4 linked regions of the Homo sapiens genome follow. The protein of the gene in region 3 purifies or fractionates together with the protein of the main gene of each other region. This does not show direct contact. Each region holds a gene or a part of one and is shown on either strand. Other genes may lie near its edges.

Evidence for each region.
Region 1: the proteins of CCDC60 (region 3) and FAM32A purify together in Homo sapiens (affinity purification with mass spectrometry; 2 studies listed by BioGRID and IntAct, with this or other methods). This does not show direct contact.
Region 2: the proteins of CCDC60 (region 3) and FAM204A purify together in Homo sapiens (affinity purification with mass spectrometry; 2 studies listed by BioGRID and IntAct, with this or other methods). This does not show direct contact.
Region 4: the proteins of CCDC60 (region 3) and DCP1B purify together in Homo sapiens (affinity purification with mass spectrometry; 2 studies listed by BioGRID and IntAct, with this or other methods). This does not show direct contact.

The regions. Positions count from the first base shown.
Region 1 is NC_000019.10:16,180,702-16,188,418, reverse strand, and holds the start of FAM32A (protein FAM32A), read right to left. Parts: upstream 3,010-7,717; 5' UTR 2,977-3,009; coding exon 2,903-2,976; intron 2,796-2,902; coding exon 2,654-2,795; intron 1-2,653. UniProt on the Homo sapiens protein: Isoform 1, but not isoform 2 or isoform 3, may induce G2 arrest and apoptosis. May also increase cell sensitivity to apoptotic stimuli.
Region 2 is NC_000010.11:118,297,415-118,304,339, forward strand, and holds the end of FAM204A (protein FAM204A), read right to left. Parts: 3' UTR 511-6,925; downstream 1-510.
Region 3 is NC_000012.12:119,533,719-119,540,743, reverse strand, and holds part of CCDC60 (coiled-coil domain-containing protein 60), read right to left. Parts: intron 131-7,025; coding exon 29-130; 3' UTR 1-28.
Region 4 is NC_000012.12:1,959,435-1,966,459, forward strand, and holds part of DCP1B (mRNA-decapping enzyme 1B), read right to left. Parts: intron 6,260-7,025; coding exon 6,124-6,259; intron 1-6,123. UniProt on the Homo sapiens protein: May play a role in the degradation of mRNAs, both in normal mRNA turnover and in nonsense-mediated mRNA decay. May remove the 7-methyl guanine cap structure from mRNA molecules, yielding a 5'-phosphorylated mRNA fragment and 7m-GDP.

The sequences.
Region 1 (7,717 bases), on a different chromosome or scaffold from region 3:
ATAGCTTTGGTTCCCCCTCCCTCAACTCCCACTCCAGAAAACCTGCTTTACCTGCAATCCTTCCCACCCCAGTAAACAGCACCTTCATTCATCAAACTGCCCAGCCCAAAGTCTTGGTCATCCTTGACTCTTCTTTCTTTCCCAGCTTACATCCAACCCAACAGCTAACCCTGAATTCATCCTTGAAAACCTATTCCAAACCTGTTACCTTCCACTGGCTCCATCACGACTGCTCTACTCTGAGCTCCCATTATTAGTCTCTTAATAGCTGCCTAAGTCTCGCATAAGTCTCATTCTGGCTTCCAGCAATAAAATCTCAGCCCTGCCTCTGACTACAACCTCAGGGTTAGAAGGGAAAGAAATGCATTTACTTGGCCAGGCATGGTGGTTCACGCCTGTAATCCCAGCACTTTGGGAGGCTGAGGCGGGTGAATCACTTGAGGTCAGGAGAGCGAGACCAGCCTGGCCAACATGGTGAAACCCCGTCTCTACTAAAAATACAAAAATTAGCTGGGCATGGTGGTGGGCGCCTGTAGTCCCAGCTACTCAGGAGGCTAAGGCAGGAGAATCGCTTGAACCCAGGAGGCAGAGGTTGCAGTGAGCTGAGATCATACCAATGCACTCCAGCCTGGACAACAGAGCGAGGCTTTTTCAAAAAATTAAAAAAAGGCCGGGCGTGGTGGCTCACGCCTGTAATCCCAGCAATTTGGGAGGCTGAAGCAGGCGGATCACCTGAGGTCAGGGGTTCAAGAACAGCCTGGCTAACGTGGTGGAACTCCATCTCTACTAAAAATACAAAAAAATTAGATGGGCGTCGTGGCAGGCGCCTGTAATCCCAGCTACTCAGGAGGCTGAGGCAGGAGAATCGCTTGAACCCCGGAGGCGGAGGTTGCAGTGAGCCGAGATCGAGCCACTGCATTCCAGCCTCGGTGACAGAGCCAGACTGAGTCTCACTGAGACGGAGTCTCACTCTGTTGCCAGCCTGGAGTGCAGTGACGTGATCTCGGCTCGCTGCAACCTCTGCCTCCCGGGTACTGGTTCAAGCAATCCTCCTGCCTCAGCCTCCCAAGTAGCTGGGATTACAGGTGTGTGCCACCATGCCCGGCTAATTTTTGTATTTTTAGTAGAGACAGGGTTTCACCATGTTGGCCAGGCTGGTCTTGAACTCCTGACTTCGTGATCCGCCCGCCTGACTTGTTAAATCCTTACCACAACCCTGTGAGGCAGACTTTAGTGCTACTTTAAGTAATAGGTAGCCGGCTTGCCCAGGGTCACACCACTAATTTGTGGTAGAGGCAGAGTCAAACTCAGGTCTGTCATGCCAGAGGTAGTGCATCCATGTGTTTTCTGTATGCCTGAATTAGATCTGGGAGTAAGGAGTTAATTGTCCCCAAGGTCCATTTTCCCCAGTGTCACCGTACAGAATCACCTAGACCAGGGTTAGGGTTTCTCAGCCTCAGTGCTACTGACATTTGGAGCCGGATCACTCTTTGCTGCGGCAGGCTGTCCTGTGTATCGCAGGGTGTGTGGTGTCATCCCTGGCCTCTAGCCACTAGTTGCCAGTAGTCCCCACCCCAACCCAGTTGAGAACCAAAAATGTTTCCAGACATTGCCACATGTGCTTCGGGGTGGGAGTTTAGGGGGGTGGAGACTACCCCCAGGTGAGAATCACTGACCTACACTGATTATTCCCTCTCCCCAGCATAATGGACCCAGTTTCTGTCTTACTGTGAACTCTTCTGTTCTCCACTGCACACATTTATGGTGTTAAGAAAAAATAATTTATCGGAGCCTTATAATACAATACAAACAAAGTCGTCATGGGCATGGCCATTCAATATCAACAGCTGAGACTGGGTGCGGTGGCTCACGCCTGTAATCCCAGCACTTTGGGAAGCTGAGGCGGGCGGATCACTTGAGATCAGAAGTTCGAGATCAGCCTGGCCAACATGGTGAAACCGCATCTCTACGAAAAATACCAAAATTAGCCAGGTGTGGTGGCGGGCGCCTGCAATCCCAGCTACTCGGGAGGCTGAGGCAGGAGAATTGCTTGAACCCCGGAGGCAGAGGCTGCAGTGCTCTGACCCCGCCAAAAATAACTAATTTTTTAAAAAATACAGCATGTTTGAATCTGCCAAACAAAGTTGTCTTGGAAACAAACTTTGTGGTGACTTCGAGCGGCGAGCATGGCCATTTAATATCAAGAGCTGGCATCCACTGAACATGTATGCACTGCTTTTTACTTTCATGACTTCCTCTCAAGTTCCCAACCCTCTTAGAATAAGTTACTACCCTGACTCGTACAGAAGAGGAAACTTGAGGCACGGAAATAAGAAAGTCACTGGCCTAGTGTCGCAGGGCAAATAAGCCACAGCACTGGAATCCAAACCCGGGTCTCCAGCTCTGGCCTCCTTTCAACGCCAGTTCTAGCTCTCCCCTCTGCTGCCCACTCGGGCCAGCGGGGTCTTCTCATCCTTGGAGCTCCCCCGGCAGAGGGCGACTCTTCTCTCACTCACGTACAGCATCCTCTCCCCGTAATTAAGGTCTCCTCTGACCGCTCCCCTGCCCTCGGAGCGTCCCAGCCCTGACCCCAATTTCCAGTCTCCCGGCGCCGGGTGTTCCCGCCTCCCCGCCGCCTTCTGCTTCTGCTCACCCGCTTCTCCTGCATTTTCTCGAAGGCCGCCTGGGCCGGGGTCCGCTTGTCCAGGCCGCGCCGCTTCTCCTCCTCGTTCTTTTTGCTCGTTCCCATTGCTTCCAGGAGTTTCGCTTTGTCTTTGTCCTTCTTTTTCTTCTTCCTGGAAAAAGACATGAGGAGGCGGCGGGTCGGAGGATCAGGGCCAGGGGTCCCGAGAAAAGGTCTAAGGGGGATGAAGACGGAATCCCGCGGGCCCTCGGGCCTCACCGCTTGGTCACTCCCAGCTCTGCGACGCCTTTCAGCTTCAGGGGTCCCTTTTGGACCTGCTCGTAGGCCTCCATGACACTCTCCAGTGCTTCGGTAGCTGGAGTGCCACACTTCCTGTTTGCAAACACTATTTCCGCCCGAATGGCCGCCTCGCTTCTCTTTGATTGGCTGAGCTACAAGGTGAGCATGCGCTCTTGGTTCTGGACCCGGGCCACACTTCCGGGTAGTGGGCGGGACAGAGAGCCAAGCGAATGAGTGCCCTTCGATTCCTATCTGCTGCCACACTTCCGAATTTGGCGCCCACTTCCGGTCTCCCATTCTTCACACAGGGTGCTGGAAACCCAACCCCTTTTTGAGCGTTTTGCGCACTTTTGGGTGACCTGTTCTCTCTCCTTGATTTTTTTTTCTTTTTTAGAGACACGATCTTGGTCTGTCACCTAGGCTGGAGTGGAGTGGCGCGATCGTGGCTCACTGCAGCCTTGAACCCTTGGGCTCAAGAGATCCTCCCGCCTCAGCCTCCCCAGTAGCAGACTGCAGACGGGCGCCACTGAGCGCGGCTAATATTTTCATTTAAATTTTTTTGTCGAGATGGGGTCTCGCTGTGTTGTCCAGGCTGGTCTCGAACTCGTGGGTTCAAGTGATCCTCCTGCTTCGGCCTTCCAAAGCGCAGGGATCACAGGCCTGAGCCACGCCCCACCACCCCCGTTCTCTTTTATTGCCATATTTTGAGCGTTCACTGGATAGCTGAACCTAATTTTGTAAACCTAATCAGTATTCATTAATTTTTCAGCTTTAGGTAAATGACAATATCATGTGACAAGGTTGGTGGTATGTTAAAACAATTAAAAATCTATTTTATGCCGGGCGCGGTGGCTCACGCCTGTAATCCCAGCACTTTGGGAAAACGAGGTGGGCGGATCACGAGGTCAGGAGATGGAGACCATTCTGGCTAACACGGTGAAACCCCGTCTCTACTAAAAATACAAAAAATTACCTGGGCGTGGTGGCGGGCGCCTGTAGTCTCAGCTACTCGGGAGGCTGAGGCAGGAGAATCGCTTGAACCCGGGAGGCGGAGGTTGCAGTGAGCTGAAATCACACCACTGCACTCCAGCCTGGGCGACAGAGAGAGACTCCATCTCAAAAAAAAAGTACATATATATTTAAATCAGCACTTTGGGAGACCAAGGTAGGCGGTTCACGTGAGGTCAGGTGTTGGAAACCAGCGTGGCCAACATGGCGAAACCCTGTATCTACTAAAACAAAACAAAACAAAACACAAAAAGCAAAAATTAGCTGGGCATAGTAGCCTGCGCTTGTAGTCTCAGCTACTTGGTAGGCTGAGGCAGGAGAAGCGCTTGAACCCGGGAGTCGGAGGTTGCAGTGAGCCAAAATCGCACCACTGCACTCCAGCCTGGTCAACAGACAAAGACTCCGTCTCAAAAAAAAAAAAAAAAAAAAAAAATCAATAGAGATAGGGTATTGCTGTGTTGTCCAGGTTGGTCTCAAACTCCTGTCCTCAAGCAGTCCTCCTGAAGCATTAGAATTACAGGCGTGAGCCACCACCCCTGGCCCTTTCTTTCTTTCTTTTCATCCTTTCAGTACTGTGCGGTTTTCTTACATACGATGTGTACATGCATATATCTTTTTTTTTTTTTTTGAGACAGAGTCTCGCTCTGTTGCCCAGGCTGGAATGCAGTGGCACGATTTTGGCTCACTGCAACTTCCACCTCCCAGGTTCAAGAGATTCTCCTGCTTCAGCCTCCTGAGTAGCTGGGATTACAGGCGCCCACCACCATGCCCCGCTAATTTTTGTATTTTTAGTAGAGATAGGGTTTTGCCATGTTGTCCAGGCTGGTTTCGAACTCCTGAACTCAGGTGATCCGCCTGCCTCAGCCTCCCAAAGTGCTGGGATTACAGGCGTGAGCCACCGTGCCCGGCCCTTGAATATATCTTTTTAATGTCAGCAGAGGACTATCGGAATTTTTGGTTTCTTCTCTATTTCCCTCTGTATCAAAAACCTAGTAAAAAAAAAAACTATTATGGGAAAAATTTAAAAAGGCTGTGCCTACCAAGTATCTGTGAAGATGTGTTGAAACTGGAACTCAAACGTGCTGCTGTTGTGAATGTAAAATGGCATAAACAGTTTAGAAATCAGTCTGACAGTTCTTTAAAAGATTAAGCATTCACTTATACTATGACAAAAGAATTAGATTCCTACGTTTTAACCCAAGTGAAATGAAAGTATAGACCCATATAAAATTGTGTAAATGAATGTTCACTGCAGATTTATTTGTAATAGCCAACAAATTAGAAACAGCCCTAATACTGCCCTAGATAAATGAATGAACACAATCCGTGCCCACAAATCTTGGCTGACTTTTGCAACCAATGGAATTACTAGGTCCAAGGTTATGCACGTTTGCACGTTTTATTTCTCATAGATTTTGTCCAAATTGTGCCAGGGTGGCTTTTTTTTTTTAATTGCTGGCGGGGGGTGGGGTAGTGGGGAGAAGGCAAAGGAGGTGGAGAAGAGAGAAGCAAACGTCCCCAAATCTACCGGACACAAGAAAAAGGAGGGCACAGGGGCTGCCTTTCTCAGTCTTACCTGCAGGGGGCAGCAAGTCACTGCCTAATTATCCGTCCACACCTGGAAAAGACTGTGCAGAGGGGCTTCTGGTACCAGGGGATGGGGGCTGCCAGCACTTTTGTGTCAAAAGCAAGGCGATCTTTTTGCCGGGCGCGGTGGCTCACACCTGTAATCCCAGCACTTTGGGAGGCCGAGGCGGGCGGCTCACGAGGTCAGGAGATGGAGACCATCTTGGCCAACATGGTGAAACCCCGTCTCTACTAAAAATAAAAAAAATTAGCCGGGCGTGGTGGCGCGAGCCTGTAATCCCAGCTGCTCAGGAGGCTTGAGGCGGAGAATCACTTGAACCCGGGAGGCGGAGGTTGCAGTGAGCGGAGATCGTGCCACTGCACTCCGCCCTGGCGACAGAGCAAGACTCCGTCTCAAAAAAAAAAAAAAAAAAAAAAAAGAAAAGAAAAAAATTAGCCGGATGTGGCGGGGCACACCTGCGGTCTCAGCTCCTCGGGAGGCTAAGGCAGGAGGATCACTTGAGCCTGGGTGTAGGTGTTCGAGGGTGCAGTGATTTAGGATCTTGATTGATGCACTCTAGCTTGGGCACTAGAGCAAGACCCTATCTCAAAAAAAAAAAAAAAAAAAAAAAGGAAAAGAAAATGATTATGTTGAGTCTTGAATACAAATTAAAAAAAAACTACAAAAAAAGAAAAAGAAATAGTAACGTGCCAATGTTAAATTCTTAGTAGTGCTAAATATGCTGTGGTTGTGTAAGATGTTAACATTAGAGCCGGGCTCAGTGGCTCACACCTGTAATCCCAGCACTTTGGGAGCCGAGGCGGGTGGATCATTTGAAGTCAGGAGTTTGAGACTAGCCTGGCCAACATGATGAAACTGCGCCTCTACTGAAAATACAAAAATTAGCCAGGCGTAGTGACGCACACCTGTAGCCCCAGCTACTGGGTAGGCTGAGGCAGGAGAATCGCTTGAACCCAGGAGGCAGAGGTTGCAGTGAGCCGAGATTTTGCCATTTGCTATTTCACTCCAGCGTGGGTGACACGGTGAGACTACATCTCAAAAATAAATAAATAAATAAATAACAAAAAAAAAAAACCATTAGAGGAAGCAGGTCAAAAGGGTTATGGGAGCTGTCTGTATCATCCTTGCACTTAAATTAAATTAGTTAATTTGTTTATTGAAATGGAGTCTCACTCTGTCACCCAGGCTGGAGTGCAGTGGCACGATCTTGGCTCACTGCAACCTCGACCTCCCAGGTTCAGGCAATTCTCCTGCCTCAGCCCCTGCAGTAGGTGGGATTACACACATGTGCCACCACATCCGGCTATTTTTTTTTTTTTTTTTTGAGACAGAGTCTTGCTCTGTCATCCAGGCCGGAGTGCAGCAGCGCGATCTCGCTTACTACAACCTCTGCCTCCCAGGTTCAAGCGATTCTCCTGCCTCAGCCTCCCGAGTAGCTGGGACTACAGGCACATACCACCACGTATGGCTAATTTTTTGTATTTTTAGTAGAAATGGGGTTTCTCCATGTTGGCCAGGCTGGTCTCGAACTCCTGACCTCAAGTGATCTGCCTGCCTTTGCCTCCCAAAGTTCAGGGATTACAGGTGTGAGCCACTGCGCCCAGCCCATCCTTGCAATTTTAATGTAAATTTAAAATTATTTCAAAACTAAAAGTTTATTAGGAAAAGAAAGAGGCTGGGCATGGTGGCTCATGCCTGTAATCCCAGCACCTTGGGATGCTGAGGCGGGTGGTTCCCCTGAGGTCAGGAGTTCAAGAACAGCTTGGCCAACATGGCGAAACTCTGTGTCTACTGAAAATACAAAAATTAGCCAGGCGTGGTGGCAGGCGCCTGTAATCCCAGCTACTCGGGAGGCTGAGGCAGGAGAATCACCTGAACTTGGGAGGCGGAAGTTGCAGTGAGCCGAGGTCACACTACTGTACTCTAGCCTGAGTGACAGAGCAAGACTGCAAGACTCCATCTCCAAAAAAAAAAAAAGGGAAAAGAAAGAATCTGTAAAGGAATTAAGTGAGGGTGGGGCTTGACTTTCTAGCCAGCTTTGCAATAATGTCAGGCTTGCTGAGTGAGCTCCCACTTCAGGAATGTAGCTAAGCGCATGGGATTCCACACCCCCATTCCTCACATCCTAGGGGATTTTCTTCCTAGCCTCTGCCTCCATTCTGTGAGTTTTGAAGCGGATGCTTTTAATGGGTGTGCAT
Region 2 (6,925 bases), on a different chromosome or scaffold from region 3:
AAGTTGTGCAACTTCTTTGCATGTAAGCTTCCTCGTGTGCAAGATAAGGATAATAGCATATACTTCACAGAGTTGTAAAATTAAATAAGATAATGCTTAAGAAGTAATTAGCATGGTGTTGGGCACATAGGAAAAAATGGCGGTTCTATCTCAGTACATGTGAGGATCTGCACAGACTGTGAAACTGACACCTGTCACACCGGGCCTCACACCCTGGCAGGTATCACGATAACGAAGTTGGTCCACCCTTGCCTGTAGGGTGTCAATTACTCCACAAGCCAGGTATCTGGCTGGGTACAGCTGAGCCTGGAGTCCCTTCCTGTTAGAGCGCCCTGAGCAACATATATCATACTCTTCTTATCCAGATGAAATTGCACTTAGAGCACCAAAGGCAGCCTGAAAGAACACAAATCTGAAAGGGGCAACCAAAAGCGGTGTTTCTCTAGCTGTACAGGAACAGTATTAGAGGTGTGGGTGGTGATAACAGCAACAATAAAGTAATAATTATACTTAGCTGCAATTGACCATGTTTTATTGCTGAATTGTCACAACAGCCCTGACCAAGTAGTTATTATTGCCCTCCCTTACAGAACAATGACCCAAAAAATTACCCAAGATCAGACTAGTGAGTAGAACCAGTATAGAAACCTAGTTATCTGCGTATTCCATCCTCTGGGCAGCACACTACTGCCATCTCCTTTATCTTAAATGTGTGTGGGAGTGAGAGAGCTAACGTTACGTGTGGCTTTAAATTTTTGAGCCCCAGTCCCTGGAACTAACCCATCTACTTTCCTTGAATCTCTTCCTAGACAGGCCCCCTGAGCCAGACAGGAAATCCACTGGTATTTAAAAAGATAGGTTGTGTGCATGGTACATGACAGGCTAGCAGTAACTCCCTTCATCCTGATTTTCCACCCTCTTTCTGGGTACCTCAGTGTCCTCTTGTTGTAAAAGTCATTAGGTATGTTTAAAATCCGAATGCGATGTGTATCTGAATAAAGACGCTTATTCTCTCCTACCAGTTACTCTTCATTTTTATGTGTCAGAAAGCGTTCCTTGCATAAACAGGTGTTATTTCCATGTACTTTTGCTCAGGTTCTTTGGATACCATGATCTTAGCTATCTGCAAAGCTGACCAGGGCTAGAACTCCATTTTACCACCTCTGACATCCACTCTTTGCCGATAGAGAAACTTGCTTCAGGACAAGATCTAGCTTGGAGCAGGTCGTAGCAGAGGACAGACATTTTACAATGTACAGAGATTATTGTTACGTCCACATTATTATTTTTGGCACTAGGAAACATGAGGACCAGTGATGAAATGTCTGGGGAAGAGGTTTCAGTCAACTGTCACTATCTTCGGCATCCACCCAAGAGTGATCTAACCTTTGCAAAGCCTTCACTGATTCGGGAACCTCAAATGCGTTTTCATTGTTAGGTTGCACCGTTAATTCTCTGTTGCATTACCTATCCTGTTTAAAAAAATAAAACAATCTAAGAAGGCAGATAATGTTTAATGGAAAAGGGCAGCGATGGACTAATGGTTGCCTAGCAACCACTAGACATTGTTTTGCTGCTTCACTCTAGAGAAGCCAAAATGGCGGCTGTAATCCTTCTCTGGCCCCCTGGACAGTGTACGTGTGAGTGACGGTTCCCTCTGGGCCCACATCATTTTCTTGTCTTGGGCAGCAGATCATTCCTTTTTCAGCTTCCAAATGGGGAAAACTGTCTGCCTGATTCTTGAGTATGCTAATGCCTACACTTTCATCTTCTCAGAAAATCTATGGCTGAACTTTTCAGGTTCTTCCTTTGGGCAGTACTGCTTAAGTGTTTTCATACCACTCTCCATTTCCTGCTTTGAGCTGCCCTTCCTGTCAATCAATTACCAACCCTGCTTCTGTATTTTTTTTTGAGGTCAAGCTAGGTACTTGACATGATTTGGTTTTGGAAAACCTCCTCCTTTCTGCTTCCAGAAGGTTTTTTTTTTTTTTTTTTTTTTGAGACAGGGTCAGGCTGGACTGCAGTGGTGCGATCACGGCTCACTGCAGCCTCGACCTCTCGGGTTTAAGTAATCCTCCCACCTTAGCCTCCCGAGTAGCTGGGGGACTACAGGGGTGTACCACCACATATGGCTAATTTTTTATTTTTTGTAGTGATGAAGTCCTGCTGTTGCTCAGGCTAGTCTTGAACTCCTAGGCTCAAGCAGCTCTCCCTCCTCGGCCTCCCAAAGTGCTAGGATTACAGGAGTCGGCGACCACACTTGGCCCAGAAAGGTCTTGAGTGCTCATTCCCTAAGGCCGAGGAAAGCTTGACAATTATTGGACAACTGGGTTTTCTCACAACTAGAGAATGGAAGAGAAGAGAAATATGGTTACAAAAAGTACAAGTGGAATCTTCAGAATTACAAGCATGATCAATAAGACTGCATGAACCTATTTTTACTAACAATTTTTCCATTAGCACGTCTTGAAAACCACAATTCTGCTATCAATAGGAATCTAAAATACTTGAATTGCTTTAATCCTTTGCTATCCCTAAATCACAAGTAGATTGGAAGTGGGTCTTGTGTGGCCTTGATTATAGAGGAACAAAGTAGCAACTGTATTGAGGACCGTCCATGACAGCTTGCTGATTTGGGGGAGATGAGTGGGATGTGATTTCTTGGCCATCTTAATGGGCTGGACACCCTAGAATGGAAGTGTTTAAGCAGGGTCCTCTAGAAGGAAAAGTTCAGGTGGTTTCTGAACCACGGAAATTGTGTGCAAAATGCAGTGCTTATGTTCACATGTCCATCTTTCTAGAGAGAGGGTCTGTAGCCCCCAGCAACTGAAAAACCAGTGGCACAGAGGGAGATGAGGAAATGAGGAGCTTTGGGAAAACTTGGCTTTCAAAAAAATATACTGAGGATGATTTAATGCAGAAATATCTTGAAAGAAAAGATGAAAGGACGTATTACTTCTTTTGTTCACTCAAGCCAATTAAATCAACAAATATTTACTGAACACCTACCATGTATGAGTCATTGAGAAATATCCTAGGAATACAGTCATGAAAATTGAATGGCCCATTAGATCATGGTGGTGTAGCCTAGGGCACTGATTAACATTGGCTGAACACATATTATATGCTAGGACTATTATGCACATTAATAAAATCATCAAAAACCACATAAACTTCAAAGCAGTATATATCATATTAAATCTCTAAGTATATATCCACTGAGAGCTGTCTGACTCTGAAGCCAGTCCTTTAGCCACCCACCTATAGGAGCTTAGCCCTGGGGAATTCTTTGGGCAGAATCCAGGGACATACTGAGTTGGGGTTTGGTGGTTCCAAGGAAAGCAGCTTCCACCTGAAAGGAAGTACAGTACTGGGGCCTTACTTCCCTAAAGACCCAGGGAGGGGAGAGAAAGTGCTCTGCTTGTATCCTAAGCACAAATGCAATACAGCAACATCAGTAATGGTAACTGAGTGCTTACTGCATGCCAGACCCGTGCTAAGCTCTCTCCATGCACTATCTTAATGTTCACAACCTCACACAGTAAGCATTATTAACAACAGCACTTTACAAATAGAAATTTGTTGAGGCTCAGAGTTGCCATAGCTGGTGAGCATCCACAGCCTACATTCAAACCCAAGTTTCATTCCAAAGCTTTGCTTTCCTGCTGCTGTATGTCTTTTGCGTCATCTTCGCATATTTAACCTCCTTGGCTCAACTGGGAACTCTTTGAAGGCTAGGGCCATCAATTACATTTTTGTTTCTTCCAGAAAATTGGCACGTACTGTGGAGTAATAACAACATTAGTACTAACAAACACTTACACACTTTCACAGAATTGTCAAGGACTACGAAGGGTCTGAGATTTCACCCTACTTGCAACTTAGCAAGTCAGTTGGCCAGTTTTACAAATGCTGATAGAAGACACTAGACTCTCAGTTCAGACATTTACTCACAACAGAAATAGCCATCAGCATTTTTGCATTGATTCCTACAGTATGACAGTTAAGAGGGCCAAAAGACACCTGTATACTGCATGACTTTCATTCAAGAACAGGAACTCTGAGTTAGGAAACCGAATCTTTTGTAATGGGAGTAAGCATGTCTGTTCTTTGCTCTAGAGTGAGACACTATCTCAATCTTCCAAGGATGTTATATACAAACATCCTTGCAAAGATAGTTTGGAACAAAAGGGTACTTAGTGCCTTGCTTCCAAGACGTGTAGAAATGCAAGAATTGTCCAGAGAATTGTCTCCCAACAAGTATATTGTTTGCTATATGTGAGAATCTATTCTCAGCACTTTCATATTCATTAGTTCCTTTAATCCTCACATCTCTATAAGATAGCTACTATTATTATCTCCATTTCTCAGGAGAACCCAAGGTACAGAGAGATTAAGTAGCCTGCCGGAGGTTACACAGCTTGTAAGTAGCAGAGCTGGGATTCAAATCTGGCTTGCTTCATAGTCCAGGGTGTAGCAGTTTCACTATTCTAACATTTGCTGGCATCAGCAACACACCTGCCTCCGTCCTTTTTCTCCAAAGTTTATCACCATATGAGAGTCCAGTGGTTCTCACACTTCAACGTCCCATCAGAAGATACAAGGTCTTGCTACCACAGTTGAATTCACGTCTGGCCTGGCGCCTGAGCACTTGCATCTCTATATTTCCTAGGTGATGTTGTGTGACACTGCAGAGTCTGCTTATTATGTCTTTCCCTCTAGGATATGAGCCCCATGAAGATCCAGCCGCTTTGTTCAGCGTGGCATCCTCAGTGCCTGCTGTAGTGCCAGACACATCACAAGCCTTCAATGCATTTATTGAAATAATGAGAAAAGGAAATGCAGGAAGAGGGATCCATTTCTTCCAGATTCTGTTATCTGACCTTAACCTTGGAAAATCCTCTAGTGCCATCCTGGCAGTTAAGGCCCTTGAGCAGCCGTCACTGCCACAGGCTACGGAGGTAAAGGAAGCAGCAAAACAAATCTTGAAAAAGGCAGCTTGCTCCTGATGGAGCTGCATGAGTTACAAGGTTTTTAACTGCAAGAATTGTTGGAGCCACTTCTGGTAATATATGAATTTCATAAAAATGTTTTCCAAGGTGCACAGAAACATCTGAGGACTTTAATTAAGCCCTCCACCATCGGGAATGGAACTTTTATGTACATGGACTTTGGATTTTCTTTTTCTCTTTTTGAGCACTGCTGGCAAGGAAGCAAGTACCAAGCGAGGATTCCAATTGAGTTCTTTGACACGGAACCTTTCTTTTCCTTTTTTGGAAAATGGAAGTAATGTACTAGTACAGGCAGTCTGTTTGGGAATATGAGCGTTTATATTAATGGCATTAAACTCAGTATTTATACCACAAGGCACCTCCTTCCCTATGGTTTGTGATAAGACATGTGCAAGTTGCACTGACTTGCTTTCCTCTTTCCCATCCCAGACTCCCCGTGTAAGAAGCGGGTGCTGCTCCAAGACAATGAGTCTTCTTTGTATGCACTAATTACAGAGGAGCTTTTGAAAATGTGGAATCCCAGGCCCTGCCCCCAGAGAGGGACCCTGGAGTTTACATTTTTAACAAGTGATTCTGCTTGCAGGAGGGCATGGATCCCACTTCAAGAACCACTGGAATGGGGTAGGGAAGAGGCAAAGGCCTGGCCTGCGTTCTAACGTCAGCCCTTTTATGCTAGATGAATGGCTGTAGAGTTCTCTTAAACTTCCCAGCACCTTGATTTCCTCATCTAAAAAACAAGTATAATGTGTCTTTGGCTTTCTTAGAGGAATAGTGCAAGAGCACTGTATGGGAAGAGTAATGAAAGAAGAATTTCAGATTTTCAATCTGCTAGACATTTATACATATGTAGAACCAAGATGTCCCTCCAAGGCAAGGAGCATAAATAACAATGAATCCTCAAAGTGTTTTTAAAAAATTTACAGAACAATAACAGTACTTCTAAGGCTTATATTCTCAGTCATGATTATTTATTAAATAGTTTAACTGGAAGGACCAGGTATGTATCCTCCACCCCTTCCATCCATCCCTCCTTTCATCCCATGTAAAATGCTGGCCTGCAGTGACTGACTGACTGAGACTGATACCGGGTTTAAAAGCCAGCTCCAGCCGGGCGCGGTGGCTCATGCCTGTAATCCCAGCACTTTGGGAGGCTGAGGTGGGCGGATCACAAGGTCAAGAGATTGAGACCACCTTGGCCAACATAGTGAAACCCTGTCTCTACTAAAAATACAAAAATTAGCTGGGCGTGGTGGTGCATGCCTGTAGTTCCACCTACTCGGGAGGCTGAGGCAGGAGAATTGCTTGAACCTGGGAAGCAGAGGTTGAAGTGAGCTGAGATGACACCACTGCACTCTAGCCTGGCGACAGAGCAAGACTCCGTCTCAAAAAGAAAAAAAGAAAAAAAACAGCTCCTTTGCCACAAGCAGAGTTCACAGAGCCCTCTTCCCCCAGCACAAGGCCAAGGCTTTACCCCTTTCAGGCATTCCCCTTCCTCATGGGCTTTGCTCCCTCCCTTACAAATGTTTCCTGAAGTGCATACTTTTACAAATCACCTCCACAAGAGATCTGAGGCACTGTTTCTAGGAAATCCAACCTAAGATTGCAATTGCACCATCTATTGCAATTCTGGTCTGGATGTCTGATTTGGCCAAGATCACCGGTGCCATCTGATGCTAACTCCAACAGCCACCTCTCCACCATTATCTTGCCTGACAGCTCAGCGGCATTTGTTCCTGTTGACATGCCACCTTTCAAGACCTCTTTCATCGACCTATTTCTGCAACCTCCCTCCCTTCTGACCTCCAGGTTGCTACATAGAAGTGTCCATTTGACATTTCCATGGCATTCCACAGGTACCATGACACAACAAGTATAAATATGACCTACTTTACTAAATACTAAATGTCTAACTC
Region 3 (7,025 bases):
TGAGACAGCTGGTCAACCCAGGCCCAGCCTACCTCAGGGCGCTGTAGGGCCCAATGGGTATGTTGATCCGGCTCTGCAGCCAGCTGATGTAATCCTCTTGAGGCATATGGATGATGTGTTCTCGCACAAACTGTGAGGCAGACATAGTGGCAATCTCAGAATTTGCTCTGAAAAGTAGACTCCACCTTCTCTCCCTCCCCTCAAGATCCTGGAAGATTTGTGACTGAGACTGGTGGCCCCAGGAATACCATTTGGGCATTCATAATCTTGGAGCATCAGATTGGGGTGGTCCTTTGGTGAAGAGGACCCCTTTCCAGCTTCCTGGCTCAGCAGGCTAATGTTAAGCCCCTTCTTGTTGCTATCGATGCAAGGAAATTTGGGGAGGACAGGAAGTCCCAGCTATCTGCATTTTTCTTTCTTTTCTACTCCTTAATATCTTTTCAAACAGTCATTTGTTGTTAAACGTTTTTGGTTTGTAAATCCGTTTCAGAATTGATGACAGCTATGGGCTTAATTTCCTGGAAAGGGTTTAAGACACACAAAAGGAAGAGTTTCATGTAGACCCCCACATCCAGATTATTAGAAATTCTGTGATGTTGGGTGGCTAGCAAGACGGCTGAATAGGAACAGCTCCAGTCTGCAGCTCCCAGTGAGATCAACACAGAAGGTGGGTGATTTCTGCATTTCCAGCTGAGGTACCTGGCTCATCTCATTGGGACTGGTTAGACAGTGGGTGCAGCACAGAGGGCAAGCTGAAGCAGGGTGGGGTGTTGCCTCACCCAGGAAGCACAAGGGGTCAGATAATTCTCTCCCCTAGCCAAGGGAAGCTGTGAGGGACTGTGCTGTGAGGAACAGTGCATTCTGGCCCAGATACTACGCTTTTCCCATGGTCTCCACAACCCGCAGACCAGGAGATTCCCTTGGGTGCCTACACAACCAGGACCCTGGGTTTTAAGCACAAAACTGGGTGGCCATTTGGGCAGACACCAAGCTAGCTGCAGGAGTTTTTTTCTTATACCCCTGTGGCACCTGGAATGCCAGTGAGAGACAACTGCCACTCCCCTGGAAAGGGGGCTGAAGCCAGGGAGCCAAGTGGTCTAGCTCACTGGATCCCACTTCCACGGAGCCCAGCAAGCTAAGATCCACTGGCTTGAAATTCCTGCCGCCAGCACAGCAGTCTGAAGTCGACGTGGGTTGTTGGAGTTTGGTGGGGGGAGGGACGTCCGCCATTATGGAGGTTTGGGTAGGCAGTTTTCCCCTCACAGTGTAAACAAAGCCACCAGAAAGTTCAAACTGGGCAGAGCCCACAGCAAAGCCACTGTAGCCAAACTGCCTCTCTAGATTCCTCCTTTCTGGGCAGGGCATCTCTGAAAGAAAGGCAGCAGCCCCAGTCAGGGACTTATAGATAAAACTCCCATCTCCCTGGGACAGAGCACCTGGGAGAAGGGGCGGTTGTGGGTGCAGCTTCAGCAGACTTAAACATTCCTGCCTGCCGGCTCTGAAGAGAGCAGTGGATCTCCCAGCACAGCGCTCAAGCTCTGCTAAAGGACAGACTGCCTCAAGTGGGTCCCTGACCGCCATGTCTCCTGACTGGGAGACACCTCCCAGGAGGGGTTGACAGACACCTCATATGGGAGAGCTCTGGCTGGCATCAGGCTGGTGCCCCTCTGAGATGAAGCTTCCAGAGGAAGGAACAGGCAGCAATCTTTGCTGTTCTGCAGCCTCCACTGGTGATACCCAGGAAAACAGGGTCTGGAGTGGACCTCCAGCAAACTCCAGCAGACCTGAAGCAGAGGGGGCTGACTGTTAGAAGGAAAACTAACAAACAGAAAGGAATAGCATCAACATCAACAAAAAGCACATCCACACAAAAACCCCATGTGATGGTCACCAACATCAGAGACCAAAAGTAGATAAATCCATGAAGATGAGGAAAAACCAGCACAAAAAGGCTGAAAATTCCCAAAACCAGAACGCTTCTTCTCCTCCAAAGGATCACAGTTCCTCACCAGCAAGGGAACAAAACTGGGCAGAGAATGAGTTTGACAAATTGACAGAAGTAGGCTTCAGAAGATGGATGATAACAAACTCCTCTGAGCTAAAGGAGCATGTTCTAACCCAATGCAAGGAAGCCAAGAACCTCTAAAAAAGGTTAGAGGAATTGCTAACTAGAATAACCAGTTTAGGAGTCTGTTCCAAGATGGCCGAATAGGAACAGCTCCAGTCTGCAGCTCCCAGCATGATCGATGCAGAAGACAGGTGATTTCTGCATTTCCAACTGAGGTACCTGGTTCATCTCATTGGGACTGGTTGGAAAGTGGGTGCAGCCCATGGAGGGCAAGCCGAAACAGGGCAGGGTATCGCCTCACCCAGGAAGTGCAAGGGGTTGGGGGTTTTCCCTTTCCTAGCCAAGGGAAGCCGGGACAGACTGTACCTGGAAAATCAGGACACTTCTGCCCAAATACTGTGCTTTTCCAATGGTCTTAGGAAATGGCACACCAGGAAATTATATGCGCCTGGCTCGGCAGGTCCCATGCCCATGGAGCATTGCTCACTGCTAGTGCAGCAGTCTGAGATCAACCTGTGAGGCAGCAGCCTGGCAGGGGGAGGGGCATCCGCCATTGCTGAGGCTTGAGTAGGTAAACAAAGTGGCCGTGGAAGCTCGAACTGGGTGGAGTCCACCACAGCTCAGCAAGGCCTGTTGCCTCTGTAGATTCCACCTCTGGGGGCAGGGCATAGCTGAACAAAAGGCAGCAGATACTTCTGCAGACTTAAACGTCCCTGTCTGACAGCTCTGAAGAGAGTACTGGTTCTCCCAGCATGATGTTTGAGCTCTGAGAACAGACAGACTGCCTCCTCAAGTGGGTCCCTGACCCCCATGTAGCTTCACTGGGAGACACCTCCCAGTAGGGGCCAACTGACACCTCATACAGGCGGGCGCCCCTTTGGGACGAAGCTTCCAGAGGAAGGATCTAGCAGCAATATTTGCTGTTCTACAGCCTCCGCTGGTGATACCCAGGCAAACAGGGTCTGGAGTGGACCTCCAGCAAACTCCAACAGACCTGCAGCTGAGAGACCTGACTGTGAGACGGAAAACTAACAAACAGAAAGGAATAGCATCAACATCAACAAAAAGGACATCCACACCAAAACCCCATCTGTAGGTCACCACCAACAAAGACCAAAGGTAGATAAAACCACAAAGGTGGGGAGAAACCAGAGCAGAAAAGCTGAAAATTCTAAAAACTGGAGCACCTCTTCTCCTCCAAAGGATCGCAACTCCTTGCCAGCAATGGAACAAAGCGGGATGGAGAATGACTTTGACGAGCTGACAGAAGTAGGCTTCAGAAGGTCGGTAATAACAAACTTCTCCAAGCTAAAGGAGGATGTTTGAACCCATTGCAAGGAAGCTAAAAACCTTGAAAAAAGATTAGACGAATGGCGAACTAGAATAAACAGTGAAGAGAAGACCTTAAATGACCTGATGGAGCTGAAAACCAAGGCACAAGAACTACGTGAAGAATTCACAAGCTTCAGTAGCCGATTCAATCTAGTGGAAGAAAGGGTATCAGTGGTTGAAGATCAAATTAATGAAATAAAGTGAGAAGAGAAGTTTAGAGAAAAGAGTAAAAAGAAATGAACAAAGCCTCCAAGACATATGGGACTATGTGAAAAGACCAAAACTATGTTTGATTGGTGTACCTGAAAGTGATGGGGAGAATGGAACCAAGTTGGAAAATATTCTGCAGGATATTATCCAGGAGAACTTCCCCAACCGAGCAAGGCAGGCCAACATTCAAATTCACAAAATACAGAGAACACCACAAAGATACTCCTTGAGAAGAGCAAGCCCAAGACACATAATTGTCAGATTTACCAAGGTTGAAATGAAGGAAAAAATGTTAAGGGCAGTCAGAAAGTTCAGGTTACCCACAAAGGAAGCCCATCAGACTAACAGTGGATCTCTCAGCAGAAACTCTACAAGCCAGAAGAGAGTAAGGGCCAATATTCAGCATTCTTAAAGAAAAGGATTTTCAACCCAGAATTTCATATCCAGCCAAACTAAGCTTCATAAGTGAAGGAGAAATAAAATCCTTTACAGACAAGCAAATGGTGAGAGATTTTTGTCACCACCAGGCCTGCCTTACAACAGTGCCTGAAGGAAGCACTAAACATAAAAAGGAACAACCGGTACCAGCCACTGCAAAAACATGCCAAATTGTAAAGACCATCGATGCTAGGAAGAAACTGCATCAGCTAATGGGCAAAATAACCAGCTAACATCATAATGACGGGATCAAATTCACACATAGCAATATTAACCTTAAACGTAAATGGGCTAAATACCCCAATTAAAAGACACAGACTGGCAAATTGGATGAAGAGTCAAGATCCATCACTATGCTGTATTCAGTAGACCCATCTCACGTGCAGAGACACACATAGGCTCAAAATAAAGGGATGGAGGAAGATGTACCAAGCAAATGGAAAGCAAAAAATGGAGGGGTTGCAATTCTAGTCTCTGATAAAACAGACTTCAAATCAACAAAGATCAAAAGAGACAAAGAAGGCCATTACATAATGGTAAAGGGATCAATTCAACAGGAAGAGCTAACTATCCTAAATATAGATGCACCAAATACAGGAGCACCCAGATTCAAAAAGCAAGGCCTTAGAGACCTACAAAGAGACTTAGACTCCTACACAATAATAATGGGAGACTTTAACACCCCACTGTCAATATTAGACAGATCAAGGAGACAGAAGTTTAACAAGGATATCCAGGACTTGAACTCAGCTCTGCACCAAGCAGACCTAATAGACATCTACAGAACTCTCCACCCCAAATCAACAGAATAGACATTCTTCTTAGCACCACATCGCACTTATTCCAAAACTGACCACATAGTTGGAAGGAAAGCACTCCTCAGCAAATGTAAAAGAGCAGAAATTATAACAAACTGTCTCTCAGACCACAGTGCAATCAAATTAGAATTCAGGATTAAGAAACTCACTCAAAACTGCACAACTACATGGAAACTGAACATCCTGCTCCTGAATGACTACTGGGTACATAACGAAATGAAGGCAGAAATAAAGATGTTCTTTGAAACCAATGAAAACAAAGACACAAGGTGCCTGAATCTCTGGGACACACTTAAAGCAGTGTGTAGAGGGAAAATTTATAGCACTAAATGCCCACAAGAGAAGGCAAGAAAGATCTAAAATCAACACCCTAACATCACAATGAAAAGAACTAGACAAGCAAGAGCAAACAAATTCAAAACTAGCAGAAGACAAGAAATAACTAAGATTAGAGCAGAACTGAAGGAGATAGAGACACAAAAAACCCTTCAAATAATCAATGAATCCAGGAGCTGGTTTTTTGAAAAGATCAACAAAATTGATAGACTGCTAGCAAGAGTAACAAAGAAGAAAAGAGAGAAGAATCAAATAGACGCAATAAAAAATGATAAAGGGAATATCACCACTGATCCCACAGAAATACAAACTACCATCAGAGAATACCATAAACACCTCTGCGCAAATAAACTAGAAGATCTAGAAAAAATGGATAAATTCCTGGACACATACACCCTGTCAAGACTAAACCAGGAAGAAATTGAATCTGAATAGACTGATAACAGGCTCTGAAATTGAGGCAGTAATTAATAGCCTACCAAGAAAAAAAGTCCAGGACCATACGGATTCACAGCCAAATTCTACCAGAGGTACAAAGAGGAGCTGGTACCATTCCTTCTGAAACTATTCCAGTCAATAGAAAAAGAGGGAATCCTCCCCAACTCATTTTATGAGGCCAACATCATCCTGATACCAAAGCCTGACAGAGACAAAACAAAAAAAGAGAATTTTTAGACCAATATCCCTGATGAACATCGATGTGAAAGTCCTCAATAAAATACTGGCAAACCGAGTCCAGCAGCAAATCAAAAAGCTTATCCACCACGATCAAGTCAGCTTCATCCCTGGGATGCAAGGCTGGTTCAACATATGCAAATCAATAAACGTAATCCATCACATAAACAGAACCATCGACAAAAACCACATGATTATCTCAATAGATGCAGAAAAGGCCTTTGACAAAATTCAACAGCCCTTCATGCTAAAAACTCTCAATAAACTATGTATTGATGGAATGTATCTCAAAATAATGAGAGCTATTTATGACAAACCCACAGCCAATATCATACTGAATGGGCAAAAACGGGAAGCATTCCTTTTGAAAACTGGCACAAGACAGGGATGCCGTCTCTCACCACTCCTATTCAACATAGTGTTGGAAGTTCTGGCCAGGTCAATCAGGCAAGAGAAAGAAATAAAGGGTATTCACTTAGGAAAAGAGGAAGTCAAAATGTCCCTATTTGCAGATGACATGATTGTATATTTAGAAAACCCCATTGTCTCAGCCCAAAATCTCCTTAAGCTGATAAGCAACTTCAGCAAAGTCTCAAGATACAAAATCAATGTGGAAAAATCACAAGCATTCCTATATACCAATAACAGACAGAGAGCCAAATCATGGGTGAACTCCCATTCACAATTGCTACAAAGAGAATAAAATACCTAGGAAACCAACTTACAAGGGATGTGAAGGACCTCTTCAAGGAGAACTACAAACCACTGCTCAACGAAATAAAAGAGGACACAAACAAATGGAAAAATATTCCATGCTCATGGATAGGAAGAATCAATATTGTGAAAATGGCCGTACTCCCCAAGGTAATTTATAGATTCAATGCTATCCCCATCAAGCTACCAATGACTTTCTTCACAAAATTGGAAAAAACTACTTTAAAATTCATATGGAACCAAAAAAGAGCCCGTATTGTCAAGTCAATCCTAAGCAAAAAGAACAAAGCTGGAGGCATCACACTACCTGACTTCAAACTATACTACAAGGCTACAGTAACCAAAACTGCATGGTACTGGTACCAAAACAGACTTATAGACCAATGGAACAGAACAGAGGCCTCAGAAAAAACACCACACATCTACAACCATCT
Region 4 (7,025 bases), about 120 Mb from region 3:
GTGGACATTTTTCAAAAGAAGACATACATGTGGCCAATAGGTATGTGAAAAATGCTCGACATCGCTAATCATCAGGGAAATGCAAATTAAAACCACAGTGAAATATCACCTCAAACCTGGTAGAATGTCTACCATCAAAAAGGCAAAACATAAGTGGTGGCAAGGATGTACAGAAAAGGAAATCCTTGTATACTGTTGGTGGGAATATTAGTTAGCATAGCTATTATGGAAAATAGCATGTTGGGCCAGGTGCAGTGGCTCACGCCTGTAATCCCAGCACTTTGTGAGGCTGAGGCGGGCGGATCACGAGGTCAGCAGATCGAGACCATCCTGGCTAACACGGTGAAACCCCGTCTCTACTAAAAATACAAAAAAATTATCCGGGCATGGTGGAGGGCGCCTGTAGTCCCAGCTACTTGGGAGGCTGAGGTAGGAGAATGGCGTGAACCCAGGAGGTAGAGCTTGCCATGAGCCAAGATTGCTCCACTGCACTCCAGCTTGGGTGACAGAGCAAGACTCCGTCTCAAAAAAAAAAAAAAAAATTTATGTTGGCTCCTCAAAAAATTAGAAATAGAACTACCACATGATCGAAGAATCCCATTTCTGGGTATATATCCAGGGAAAATGAAATCAGTATGTTGAAGAGATAGCTGCATTCCTGTGTTCACCACAACATTACAATAGCCAATATATGGAATAAACCTAAGTGTTCATCAATGAATGAATGGATAAAGAAAATGTGGTGTATAAACACAATGGAATACTATTCAGCCTCAAAAAAGAAGGAAATTCTGTCATTTGCAACAACATGGATGAACCTGGAGGACATTACATTAGGTGAAATAAACCAGGCACAGAAAGGCAAGTACTGCATGATTTCACTCCTACATGAAATCCAGAGAAGCTGAACCCACTGAAGCACAGTAGGCTGGTAGTTGCCGGAGGCTGGGGGTAGGAGGATTTTGGAGATGTTGGTCAAAGGATACAAACTTTCAATTAGACAGGAGGAATAAGTTCAGGAGATTTATTGTACATCATGATGACTACAGTTAGTACTAATATATTGTATACTGAAAGTTGCTAAAAGAGTAGATTTTAATTATTTTTGCCACACAAAAATGATAAATATGTGAGGTAATACATGTGTTAATTAGCTTGATTTAGGCACCCTATAATATACATGCATATCAAAATATCATGTTGTATACCATACATAAATATATACAATTTTAATTTTTCATTGAAAATAATTTTAAAAAGAAAACTTCAATAAAAGTAAGTCTAGCACTGAAAACCATCTCAGAAGTCTTTTAGTTTAATACTTATCCAACACAAGCCAAATTCTTTTATCACATCACCAATATGTAACTGTTCAATCTCTTCTTGAACACTTTAAGTAACGGAGACTCACTTCCCAACAAGAACTCTGAAGGAACATTCTGTTTTCCTTCTCTCTCGCTACCTTTCCATTTCACCCCCTTTCTTCTGTCTCAGAACCACTTTACTCAGGGTCTCCACATTTTCTGAAATATCTGTGTGTGAGTGCAGAGACAACACAATGTAAGAAGGCGATGGAATGCTCTTTCCAAACATAAGGCACTGGCAGCTAGCAGGGTGCATGCACACCTAGTTAGGCCGGCCAAAAATAAGGTGATGGAAAAAGAACATCTGAAACAGGCCCTGAAAGCTGGATCATATTTTGATGGGTGAAGAAGGGGTGGGAACAGTATGAGAAAAGTCATGAAAGCACTCTCAGGAAGCAAAATGAGTATTCTGTTTGGCAGGAGTTTCAAATATTTGTAGAGGGTAGTAGGGTTAGAAGAACAAACTGAGGCCGTCTTAGGGAAGGCTTGAAGACTCCAAGGGTTCCTGTACTGGGCAATGACAAACCAAGAAAAACGGAGACTAGGAAAGTAGCGTGATCATGCAGGTGTCCTGGCACACTGTATCACAACATCTGGCTGTTAATGGAAGAAGAAATAATTTCCTCTATTATTTATCTCACAGTTGGAGCAACTGACATTACGCATAAAACAACATGTATTTGATTTTTACAGAAAAGCACCTTCTATACACGAATTAAGTGTCTGCACTTCATGTCAACATTATAACAAATCTGTGAGGGCATAAAGATGAACAGAACATTGTTTTAACTTCAACCAGTTTACAGTGTACTGGGAGAAGTTGACTTAATGTAATAAATGAGGAAGAACAAAATAAGTTTTAAATAGTAATAGACTGAGTTCACATGGAAGAATAATTAATTTGACTGAAGAGACCTGGGAAAACTCCACGTAAAAAGTGTCATTTTTACTAAGCCTTAAAGGATATGTAAATTCTGAAGGGTAAATAAAGTAAGGGGAAAAATATTCCAAGACATAGGCACAGTATAAAGTGATGGCCTAAATTAAATCTCCAGAACCGTATATGAGTGTTTCTGAGAGAGACAGAGAATGTGTGTGCTTGTGCTGTTCTTTTATGTGATGGTCACTCAAGTGAGGCCAGAGAGGAGACACAGGAGAGTCTCAGGAAAACAAAGTTTATTATACTCACAGGTCCTGGAGACAAGAGGCATGCCACGCTGCACAGGGCCACGTGTGGAAGCCTCAGGGTGTCAGCAGCAAGGGGAAGGCGTAGGCTAGAGCATTTACTGAATTTCCTCAAGGAAGGCAAGGCAGGGCATGGTAAACAGGTTAAGATTGGCCAGTTTGAATAACTCCAGCAGGCTCTAAACTGTATGAGTGGTCCCCAGTTGCTGGGTACCTGGCCCTGGGATGATTAAGGCAGAGGAATATTGTACAGGCCAGAGACGAGGAGATACGTATGGCTCAGGATTGGTTAGTGTGCATATTAAAGGCGTGCTCCTGGCCAAGCCCTTTGCTATCTCTGAACACTGGCTGGTCACAGGAGGGGCAGTCTCCCCAGCCAGAAAGGATTTTAAGATGTCAAAACATTATAACATATAGAAGATAAAAAACAGAAACAATACAAGGTATGTGTGTGTTGAGAGGAGGGAGGGAAAGAAAGGAAAATAATTTTTTTCAATATTTGTATTTATTTACCATTGTTACACTGTCTTCACAGAACATTAAGTTCCTGGAGGGCAGAAATGTCACCTTTTGAAGATTAATCTTTAGTGTGCATAATATAGTATAATTAATAAAGTATAACTAATTATTCAACTAGTTGCCAAGTCATCATAATTTTTTTTAATGACTTTTGAAGAATTAAAAAAACACAAAATGAATACAGAATAGTTACTGTCTGAAGCTGAGATTAAGGCATCTCTGTCCAGGCCATACAATAGAAGGATAATTAAACTGTGGCTCATTCACATTCATATTCCTTCCTTCACTCAATAGCCATTATTTAACACTCACCATGTGCTAAGTACTTTGAAGACAATAAGGGATATAAAAGTGAATAAAGGATGTTCTTCGTACTCAAGAAGCTCACAGTCAAGGCAAAGCATGTTAAAGAAACTTGTCTAACTGCCTATATGTGCCACTTCATTCAGGATTTTTCTGATTGCTTCCTCATAGCATCATTTAATTTGTTTTTCTACCTTGTCTCCCCTCACTCCCCACCCACTTTCACTTTCTGTAAACTAAAAAGTTAGAGCTCAAGGCTTAATGAGATTCAGGATCAACTCTTTGGGCAAGAATATTTCAAGATGGTGCTGTACATTTGACATCTTATCACATTAGGAAGCCAGAGAATCTGGTTATCTAACTTTTAATGATGATAATCAGCGGGGTTCAGGAGGAGGCAGCCTGATCCTTCCACTGTCAAGTTTCTATCAACCTTTCCCATAACATTAATATTACTGATGATCACTGCCTGAGTCAATTATTTTAAGCAGAGTGTCTTTAAGTTCTATTATTCTCTCCACACGTACTAGCTGGAATTCTCTGGTAGAGAACAGCTCTCCCTCATTGACCAGGGCTGTTTGATTACTCTGAGATATAGTCCCTTTAGGGCAGGCAGGATAAAAGCTTATTTCATTCCCATTAATTATCAATTTTCAGAGGAAGGAGTTGGTGCCTTAGCACCTTCAAACGGATAACTAATAATTATTTTGCTTGGTTTTATATGTTTGGTTTGCTTGTTCTCTTTCTCATTACCAGGAACTCATAGATTTTTATACATTCAATGTGGTTTAATCCATTGTAGTCACTCCTGTTGATGTTAGAATGTGGTGCTCTGGTCAGTGTCCTTGAAGCTGATTTCTGTGTCCTTTCACATGACCCTATTGGTTTTACTATTCCAGACCTGGAATCAGAAATTTCTTTGAAGAGCCCTGACACCTTCTGGAAGGAAGTAATATTTCGAAACAACAATCTGGGTGATATAGATGCTTACTGCTACTGAGTTAGTCACTTTTATTTTTATGTCCTTTCAGGGCAAGAGTGAGAAACTCTATTTTTTGTTTTTATACCTAAGAAACAAAACATGAACTAATTCTGATATTTCCACTTAATCTTATGTAGTTTTAACTTATTAGATTTGATTTTTTTCCCCTTACACTAAGGTTTTGGTTCCAACCACGTTTATCTAATTTCATATTTATTATATCCACAACAGTAGAAAAATTACAATGCCAACAGTAGAAAAATTAAAATGCCAACATTACTACAAACAATAAAACCAATGAATGAAGTTTATAATGTCTTGCAGTTCTTTTTGTCCTTAAAATATAACCCACTAAGAGTGTTCAGTTCAAGCAGCGGGCTTTGAAGTCACTCTAATTTTTTTTCTAAGTAATTATGTGACAATATGATATTCAATTACATACATTTATTTCAGCTAGTTTCCAAATTCTATAATTTTTAAAAATTTTTATTTTTTGCCCATTTTTCTAGTGTTAATCTTGTACTTCTTAATTTTTAGGAGCTCTTCATAAAATAACCTTCCTGTCATTCTGGTGTCAACAATTTTTTTCTGAGTTGTTTTTGTATCTTTCTATTTGCTTGTGTTGTATTTAAACCTTGTAAAATGTTTTTTATTTTTATGTAGTTTAATTAATTGCTTTTGGGTTTTTAGGCATAATTGAAAGATTTCTCTTTTCCTAGATTATAAAGAAATCCATACAAATTTTCTTCTGGTACTTGAATCATTATATTTTTACATTTAAATTTCTAATACATTTGGAATTTATCCTGGTGTATGCTGTAAGGTACAGACTCAGTTTTGTATTTTTCCAAATGGCTACCAGTTGCCCCAACACCATTTATTTAGGAATTCACTCAAATAGCTGACTTGAGATTATCATCTTTATCATATCCTAGATTTCATATACAATTGGATTTAATCCTAGACTTAGAATCTTAAATCTGTCCCATTGGTCTATTGGGCTGTTAGGTATCAATACCATCAACACCATACTGTTTGAAATGTTGACTTCAATGTTTTAAAATCAGGGAGAGCTCGCTCCATCCCCCCACTCATCTCCCCCACCTCCAACCCCTACTAATATCACACTTCTTTGCCAGGATTTTCCCAGCTATTCTTTCTTGCATATTTCTTTCCATGAGCCTTACACTCAACTTGTCTAGATCAGAGAGTAAGGGAGAAGTGGGGAGGGGAGGGGAAAAGAAACCAGTGGTATTTATTTAGTGGTCACCTTAAATGTAGAGATTTTTTTTCTAAGAGCTTTATGTTGAATCTTCTTATCCAACAACAGGGTGTATATTTCCATTTGTTTGAGTCTATTTTTATGCCTTTCAGGAGTTTTTAAACATTTTCTTTATATAGGTTTTGCCCATTTCTCGTGAATTTTATTGCAAACAATTTTATATTCATTTGTTGCTACTGTAAGTTGGGGTCTTGCAGTAAGTCTAACAAGACTTACTACCAGTTGTGTATATGAAGGTTATTGTATACATGAAGGCTATTGTATATATGAAGGCTACTGATTTCTCAGGCTATTTTTTAACCCACTTAAAGGCAAACAGTTTTCTTCAGCTTATAAAAAATCTATATTACAAATAAAGATTTTTTATTTGTAATATAATTTTGTTTGGTGGAAGGAACAGCATCCACAGTACCTAGTCTTGCTAAACAAGAATATTCCCACTGCGGAACTGAAGTGTGTATGTATCACAAGGAAGGGCAAACACTCACCTTTGTGTATTCGTCTTTGGCCTTGATGAGCATTCGTAAAATGTCTACTTCTTTGCCCTCTCCTGAATTGAGGATCACTGGGGAAATTCCTGCTCCAGTTCCCTGATGGGCTTTCAACTGTTCATACTGAGTTAGGCTAGAAAAACAGAGGGGAAAATCCACACAAGAAAAGCCAATTCAACACAAACAATGTTTAAAACCATCCCAATTCTCACCTAGTTGTTTTCATCCTGTTACAACCATATTAGAAATAAGCTTGCTTAGGAATTTAAAGGAGAAAAATGAGAGTTGAGGTCCTGAATTCACTGACTACACAAATGAATCTAGGATAGGGGTCAGCAAATCTGTGGGCCAAGTCCAGCCCACCACCTGTTTTTTGTAAAGAAAGTCACAAACACAGCCAAGCTCAACACAGCCATGCTCCTTTGTTTACATGTTGTTTATGGCTGCTTTCACATTACAAGGGCAGAATTCTATAGTCGGAACACAAATCCTATGGACTGCAAAGCCTAAAATACTCACTCTCTGGTCCCTTTGAGAAGAGTTTGCCAACTCCTCACACAGTGCATTCTAAAGGATGCTCTCATTAGTTGCTAAGGAAACCCAATTTAGAGTTCTGAAATACTGAGGAAAGAACCCCCTACTTTACAGACTGCCTTGAAGTCAAGGCAAGGTTGATTCTGGCAACTCAAATCCTGCAGCTCTCTGGCAGTTTCAAAACATGGTAAAGATTCCATTCTAACTCGGAGAAGAGGGGCCATTTAAAAAACCACTTAGAGCAACGAGGAGTTCTTCTGTTGCCTGGAAAACAATACAAAGATAGACCAGATTGCTCCTATATGCTGCTAGGTGATGTCGAGGAAAATATACTTTCCCTTTATGTGCTGTAACTTTCAGCTCAC